Linked DNA regions of Homo sapiens. The protein of the gene in region 1 purifies or fractionates together with the protein of each later gene. This does not show direct contact. Each region holds a gene or a part of one and is shown in the gene's direction. Other genes may lie near its edges.

What was found. The genes of interacting proteins can lie anywhere in the genome.
Region 2: the proteins of KYAT1 (region 1) and ZZZ3 purify together in Homo sapiens (affinity purification with mass spectrometry; 2 studies listed by BioGRID and IntAct, with this or other methods). This does not show direct contact.

Annotation. Positions count from the first base shown.
Region 1 is NC_000009.12:128,880,514-128,884,113, reverse strand, and holds the start of KYAT1 (kynurenine--oxoglutarate transaminase 1), read left to right. Parts: upstream 1-2,163; 5' UTR 2,164-2,217; intron 2,218-3,600. UniProt on the Homo sapiens protein: Catalyzes the irreversible transamination of the L-tryptophan metabolite L-kynurenine to form kynurenic acid (KA), an intermediate in the tryptophan catabolic pathway which is also a broad spectrum antagonist of the three ionotropic excitatory amino acid receptors among others.
Region 2 is NC_000001.11:77,633,857-77,637,688, reverse strand, and holds part of ZZZ3 (ZZ-type zinc finger-containing protein 3), read left to right. Parts: intron 1-3,832.

The DNA of each region.
Region 1 (3,600 bases):
GTCATTCAAGAGTTTGCAAAGGAAACGGCTTCCTGGTGGGTGTGCCTAAGGGATGGAGAACCACCACATCTAGTCAAGTTCTGGGGGGAAGTCATGAACATTTCCTGTGCCCCCGCTCTGTTTTTTTTTTTGTTTTTTTGAGATGGAATTTTGCTCTTCTTGCCCAAGCTGGAGTGCAATGGCGCGATCTTGGCTCACTGCAACCTCTGCCTGCTGGGTTCAAGCAATTCTCCTGCCTCAGCCTCCCGAATAGCTGGGATTACGGGTGCGCAGCCCCATGCCTGGCTAATTTTTTGTATTTTTAGTAGAGACAAGGTTTCACTATGTTGGCCAGGCTGGTCTCGAACTCCTGACCTCGTGATCTGCCCGCTTCAGCCTCCCAACGTGCTGGGATTACAGGCGTGAGCCACCACGCCCGGCCCTGCACCCCCTGCTCTGTACCCTATGGTCCCTAGAACGCAGAGGGCATCAGACCCCATGCCAAAGCCCTGAGACCAGGAAAACAAGGAAGCAGAGACCAGCCACCCAGTCACTCATCCCTGGCATGTCCACAACAGCCTCCTCCAGCACAGGTCATCTGTCCTTGCCTCACTTCATGAGCCAGAGGAAGACTTGACCTTCATGGAAGCAACACCAGTGAGACTGAGCAATCAGCACTGCCCAGTCTCTCTGAACAAACTCCCACTCCCACATCCCCTCCACAGGAAGTATCAGCAACAGCCGATCTCCTCCCGCTTCTTACAGCCTGTCTGTCTGCCAGGTTGTCTGCTCCAAAGGGCAGAATACAGTTTGGCAGGGGTTAAGAGTACTACTAACAGAAGAGGTGGAAGAGGTCCTTGGGAACTTCGGGCTCCCCCAGTTCCCTTCCTCTTACCAGGTGCTCTCCCTCCACACCTCATTCTCAAAAGGCTTCCTGAGGTAGGGCAGGGGAAGAGGAGTCAGTGGAAGTGTGGCTCACCCAGGAACCGCCCACCCTTCCAGCCAAGTCTCCATCAGGAGGCGGCTACCAGACAACCCCCGACCCATCCCTCCTTCCCAAAAAAGGCAACAATCGCAACAGCTGAGAACCGGCAGACCTCGGTTCACCCCGGTCCAGATCAAGGGGAAGAAGCAGTCAGCGAAAGCAGCAGAATCATCATGAACTCCATGACCCCAGCTATGCCCCTTCAGCCTGGGAGCTCAGTTTGCTGGGTATCCAGCTCACCTAGGGCTGCACCAGGCCTGGACCTCACTGGATCTCGCCTCGCCCTCGGGCCCACCTGAATGCACAGGACTGGGACAGGGTCTGGGTTCTTAGATTCCGGACCGGTCTTCCCAAATATCCCATCCCAGAAAGGCCCCAAGAGCCTAGCCGGGGATCCTGCCCCCAAGTCAGGGCACTGCCCCCATCGGAACGATAGGAAGGAGGGGTGCAAGGGAAGAGAAGGGGACCAGGAACTCAGGAGAAGACAGCTAAGGAAATCTTTGAAAAAGAAATGGCAAGGAGAGAGCCCAGAGGTGGAACCTCTAGGAACGGGAGAGTGTGTGTGGAGGGGTGAGGATCTGGGGGGACCCAGGGGATGACAAGGGGACATGGGGGAGCCGAGGCGGAAACTCCTGGTTTCTGAAGCACAAGGAGGCACAGGGGTGCCTGGGAGGGGGCTCGCGCGCCGCGGAGCCGGCGAGAAGGTGGTGCCCCGGAGACTCCGGGCACTGGGGAGCCCAGAGGTAGGCCGAACACCGCGGGAGGTCCCCAGGGGGCCGGCCCGGAGACAGAGCCCCAGATGCCCCGGGCGCCCCGGGCCGGGCAGCTGGCCGAGGGCGTGTGTAAGTGGGTTTCGAGAGGTGACAGCTCGCGCCCCTTTCCCCACCCCGTCCACTCACCTGGGCTCGCCGCGCCCGGCCGCCCGGCAGGCAGCCCCAGGCCCCGGCCGCTCCGTCCCGCCGCCGGCCGCAGCGCTGCTCCGGCGCCTCCTTTTGTTTGTCCCTCACTGCACCACTCAGCCTCCTCCGCCCCGGAAGTGACGTCACCGCCGGGCGCGAACGCGGCGGCCAGGGCGTCGCCATCTTTATGAGGAGAATTCTAGCGGCGCTTTCTCCCGCTCTCGCCTCCGCGCTAGCGCCCTGCTGCTTCGGGGCGGAAGTAGCGGAGCCGGGCTCGGCCCCCTTAAAGGGACAGGGACTGCTGCAACCTACGGGGTGTACTTGGGAACGAGGGGTGAAGCGGCCCAGGTGAGGGTGAGTAGCTGTGTCGGAGCGCCACTTCCCCAAGGTCAGGTGCCGAGGCTGGGAGGGTCGGCTAACGGTTCCGAGCTTGGTTGTGCTAGAGTGCTTAATGAGTTTGATGCTACTAAGTATAACGGAGTGGCTGCACAGAATGATTGAGCCGCCCGCGGGAATCAACTGCGCGTGCTGCTCGCTGATTCTCGCTCGGACACTGGGGCTGGTCCTGTCTGCACCCAAATCCCCCTCCCACGACCGCGCCGGTGGAGATGATACCCGAGACAACAGAATTCTGGACAGATCTGGGGTTGGAATTGGGTCCCCAGACTCCAACTCTGCAGCTCCATAAATCCCGCTGGGTCCTCGCAAATTCCCTGGCTGATAACAGTACCGGCAACCAAATTAAAAAATAATCCATACAGTGGAATACTGTGCAGCCATTAAGACGAACAATGTTTAATATGCACTAATGTAGGGTGACTTCTAAGATACCTTAGGTTAAAAAAGGAAACAACAGTAAAAACAGCGTTGGGCCGGTTGCGGTGGCTCACGTCTGTAATCCCAGCACTTTGGGAGGCCGAGGCGGGCGGATCACGAGGTCAGGAGATCGAGACCATCCTGGCTAACTTGGTGAAACCTCATCTCTACTAAAAATACAAAAAAATCAGCCGGGCGTGGTGGTGGGCGCCTGTAGTCCCAGCTACTCTGGAGGCTGAGGCAGGAGAATGGCATGAACTCGGGAGGTGGAGCTTGCAGTGAGCCGAGATCGCGCCGCTGCACTCCAGCCTGGGCGACAGAGCGAGACTCCGTCTAAAAAAAGAAAAAACAGCGTTGATGGGTGCTATCCATCTTTGCGTAGAAGGACGCCTGAGGGTGGGCGTATCTGCGGGTGTGCGCGCCAGCTGTCTGATAAGATGCACAAGAAGTTGTTAATTGCGGTTGTCTCCGACAGAATTGGGGTCTTGGGTACCTGGGCCAGGGCGAGAAATTTACTACCATGTGCACAGATAGATAATTAAAAATAAGATGATGAAGATAGTCGTGGCTCCCATCCATCACGTGTTAAGCCAATGCCTAGTTTCACTTCTGTTGGGAGGTCTTATTTTTCCCTTTTAATAGAAGAGAAAAGAACCTTAGAGAGGTTAGGAAACTTAGCAATATCATAGCCAGGGCCGGGCGCGGTGGTTCACACCTGTAATCCCAGCACTTTGGGAGGCTGAGGCGGGCGGATCACGAGGTCAGTAGATCGAGACCATCCTGGCTAACACGGTGAAACCCCGTCTCTACTAAAAATACAAAAAAATTAGCCGGGTGTGGTGGCGAGCGCCTGTGGTCCCAGCTACTCGGGAGGCTGAGGCAGGAGAATGGCATGAACCTGGGAGGCAGAGCTTGCAGTGA
Region 2 (3,832 bases), on another chromosome or scaffold:
ATACAGACTTTTTATTTTTTATTTTCTAACAGAAAGGGTCTCACTATTGTCCAGGCAGTTCTCAAACTCCTGGGCTCAAGTGATCCTCTTGCCTCAGCCTCCTGAGTATCTGTGACTGTAGGTGCCCCCACTTCCCTGCCCCTGCACCTGGCTAATCTAGACATTTTTGGTCCCTTTTTATTAACTGAATTTTGCACTCAGTTTATTAGATAATTATAGAAAGTGTGTACCTTTATATATGCCTATCCAAAATAGAAAAGATATGAAGAAAAAGGTTAGAACAGAAAAAAATGATCAGAGGGAAGATTAGCAAAATTTTGTTTAACTCTGATCTTAATAATTTTAACCAGTTTATTACCTCAAGTGCACATCACATGTTAATTTCAGGTAAGATTTTTTATAGTCTTCCATTTGGTGCTTCCTTGGTCTTATTTATAAATTTTTTTATTATTAGGATCCAGTAAGAAATTAAAGGGTATTTTATAAATAGTTCTAATTTAGTTTGAAACTTGATGACTATTATCTTATTAGAATTCTGTCTGGGTTCACTAGCCTAAGGCAGTGCTTCTCAAACCCTAATACATACATGAATCACCTAGGAGCCTAATTCGTTGGTAGGTCTGGGGCGGAGCCTCGTATTCTGCATTTCTAACAAGCTTCCAGGAGATGCCCGTGATTGAGCTGCAAGAGCCTGAGGTACCACAAGGATCCTTGTTATAAAACAAGTTCTCTTTCAATACAGCCCAATAGCACAGAATTTGACAATCCTAGCACTAGGGCTTTGTTCTAGTTATTGAGTGAAATAAAAGCATTTTTAGGGTACAGAAGAAATGGAAAGAACCTTAATCTTTTATATTAATCAGTGTTTTCATATTTTATTTAACTTTTGTATTAATCAGTGTTTTCATATTTTAATCAGTGGAATGGTGAAAAATTAAGATAGGCCTTACTATACGTGATTTTTTTTTTTTTTTTTTTTTTTTCAAGACAGGGCCTTGCTCCCATCACCCAGGCTGAAGGGCAGTCACATCACTACACCCTTGACTTCCCAGGCTCAAGTGATCCTCCCACTCAGCCTCCCTAGTACCTGGGACTACAGGCAGGCTTCACTACACCTGGATAAATTTTTTGTATTTTTAGTAGAGACAGGGTTTCGCCATGTTGCCCAGTTTGGTCTCGAATTCCTGGGCTCAAGTGATCCACCTACCTCGGTTTCCCAAAGTCCTGGGATTACAGGCCTGAGCCACCATGACCAGCTTATAGGTGATATTTTATAGTAAAGAATATATGTATAAAAAAAAGGTTTTTAGTACTACTAATAATAGGTTCATTTCATCCAAAATAGTCTCTCTTTGAGAAGTTTGTACTGCAAGGCAAATTTTGCTCCCATTCAGATTGGTGTGGAAAGAAAAGGTTAAGGAAGTCTTATTATTGGAATAATTTAAGAGGTTTTTATGCCCTTAATTGGGATTGCATTTTAAAAAGTAAAGACTAACAGATTCTTTTGTGTGTTTATAAAGTATTTCTATTGTCAGTATTATTTTTGAACCATAAATTATGAGTATAGTTGAATTTACATTAAAGATAATATGTATTAGATTTTGTAGGCATTTTAGTTATTAAATTTAACTTAGCCTTATGCTTTTTTTGTGCATTTACATACATATTTAATATTTAAAAATAAGTAATCTTAACCCTTTAGAGTGCCAGATTTGGATACATGAAACAAGTAAGTTGCTTTTCATGTATTTCAGTTTGTGTTCTTTTCTTTTTATTTTTTTTTGAGACAGAGTCTCGCTCTGTTGCCCAGGCTAGAGTGCAGTGGCGCGATCTCGGCTCACTGCAACCTTTGCCTCCTGGGTTCAAGCGATTCTCCTGCCTCAGCCTCCCGAGTAGCTGGGATTACAGGCATGTGCCACCATGCCCTACTAGTTTTTGTATTTTTAGTAGAGACGGGGTTTCACCATGTTGGCCAGGCTGGTCACGAACTCCTGACCTCAAGTAATCCGTCTGCCTTGGCCTCCCAAAGTACCGGGATTACAGGCATGAGCCACTGCCCCTGGCCAGTTTGTGTTCTTTTAAAACATCATTTGAAGTTTAACTTAAATGTTTTACAATTAAAAGTGGAAAATTATGGGACACTCAGTGTTTGTTACCCATGAAAGAAACAGATTGTAATCTTCATGATAATATATTAGCAAACGATAATTAAATGTCAGCTGTTCTTTTAATGAATCCCCCAAACAATGAAAGTTTACTACTGTAAGAAATGTGTTTCTAAGTTCTGATTTGTGTCTTGTACTTATTGTTCACTTGGTTGCTATGAAATTCTGTAGAACATATAACCATGCTTTAATTCCAGGGCTAGTTTTGTGATTCTTATAAGATTTAAAAAAATTGTTAATTAAAAATTTAAAAGTATGCCATACTTTGAGACAACACTAAACTCAGGCAACTTAAATATTTTACAGGGTACTTTCTCACTTAATTCACTTGTCAGCAGGCAGGAACAGGGAGATTATTTCCTGTAGTGTTTCTTTTTTATATGTGGTAGCATGTTGCTGTGTCTTCTATAATTCTTCCAAACTTTCCACTGTTAGATAGTTCTAGTTGAAGCAAGGAGAAATTGTGTTTGATTTTTAGGGGTAGGAGTCAGAATGGCATTTGGAGGTTTACATGAGAAGGGAGACTGTTGATGACCAAAGGCAGGAGGAAGGGACTGTGAAACTTTGCACTATTGCCACCACTGGCCTCTTTCTCTAACTAATCATCCTGCATCTCATTCAAAGTTAGGAAATAAAATGACAGGGTACCTTGTGAAAACTAAACAGAAGAGGAGTCGGGGAATAGAGACTTCAAATATTAACAGCTCCTTTATTCTGCTTGATGGGAGAGCCTCTGGAAAATATCACCAAATCACTAGTTTACCCAAATGGATCAATCAAGGCATTTTTCTATATCCCTTACATTTCTGTCATATAAACCTCAAGCATCCACACCAGAATACCTGCTCATCTCCCAAACCACACATTAAAACTGGCACTGGCATATGCTATACACAGGAGTTCAAAGAAGGAAAGGGTGGGATTACAGGAGTAGTCTTGATTTCTTAAATGTAAGTATTTGCTTCAGAGGCTTCTTCCCCATTTTCTTTTCTGGTCTTTGGAACACTCCCTTTCACTTGCTAATTTATGGCTTTATTTCTAGAGACTAGGAAGGCTTGGGTTTGCTTTGTTTTGTTCTTAGCCAATGCAAGCTAGCATTGTGATTTTTGTCTATTTAGTTATGAAAAATTATACTGCAATAAAAAATTTTTGGATGCCAGATTATTATTAAGGGATTTGATCTGAAACTCATTTTAGCAAAAGTAAATTAAAAAGAGGAGAGCCTGCCTTTCTGTATACCGGGAACATTTTGAAAGAACACGAGAAATGATTGGAATAGTTTTTTGAAAGATAGCTGCTATATAAGTTCAAGATTATTATTTTATTTATTTTATTTATTTATTTATTTATTTTTTTGAGACAGTCTCACTCTGTCGCCCAAGCTGGAGTGCAGTGGCATGATCTCGGCTCACTGCAAACTCTGCCTCCCGGGTTCAAGTAATTTTCCTGCCTCAGCCTCCTGAGTATCTGGGATTACAGGCGTGTGCCACCACACCTGGCTAATTTTTGTATTTTTAGTAGAGACAGCGTTTCACCATGTTGGTCAGGCTGGTCTTGAACTCCTGACCTCATGATCCTCCCGCCTCAGCCTCCCAAAGTGCTAAGATTACAGGTGTGAGCCACTGCGCCCGGCCGAAGATTATTATTTTAATGACCAAAATGAAATC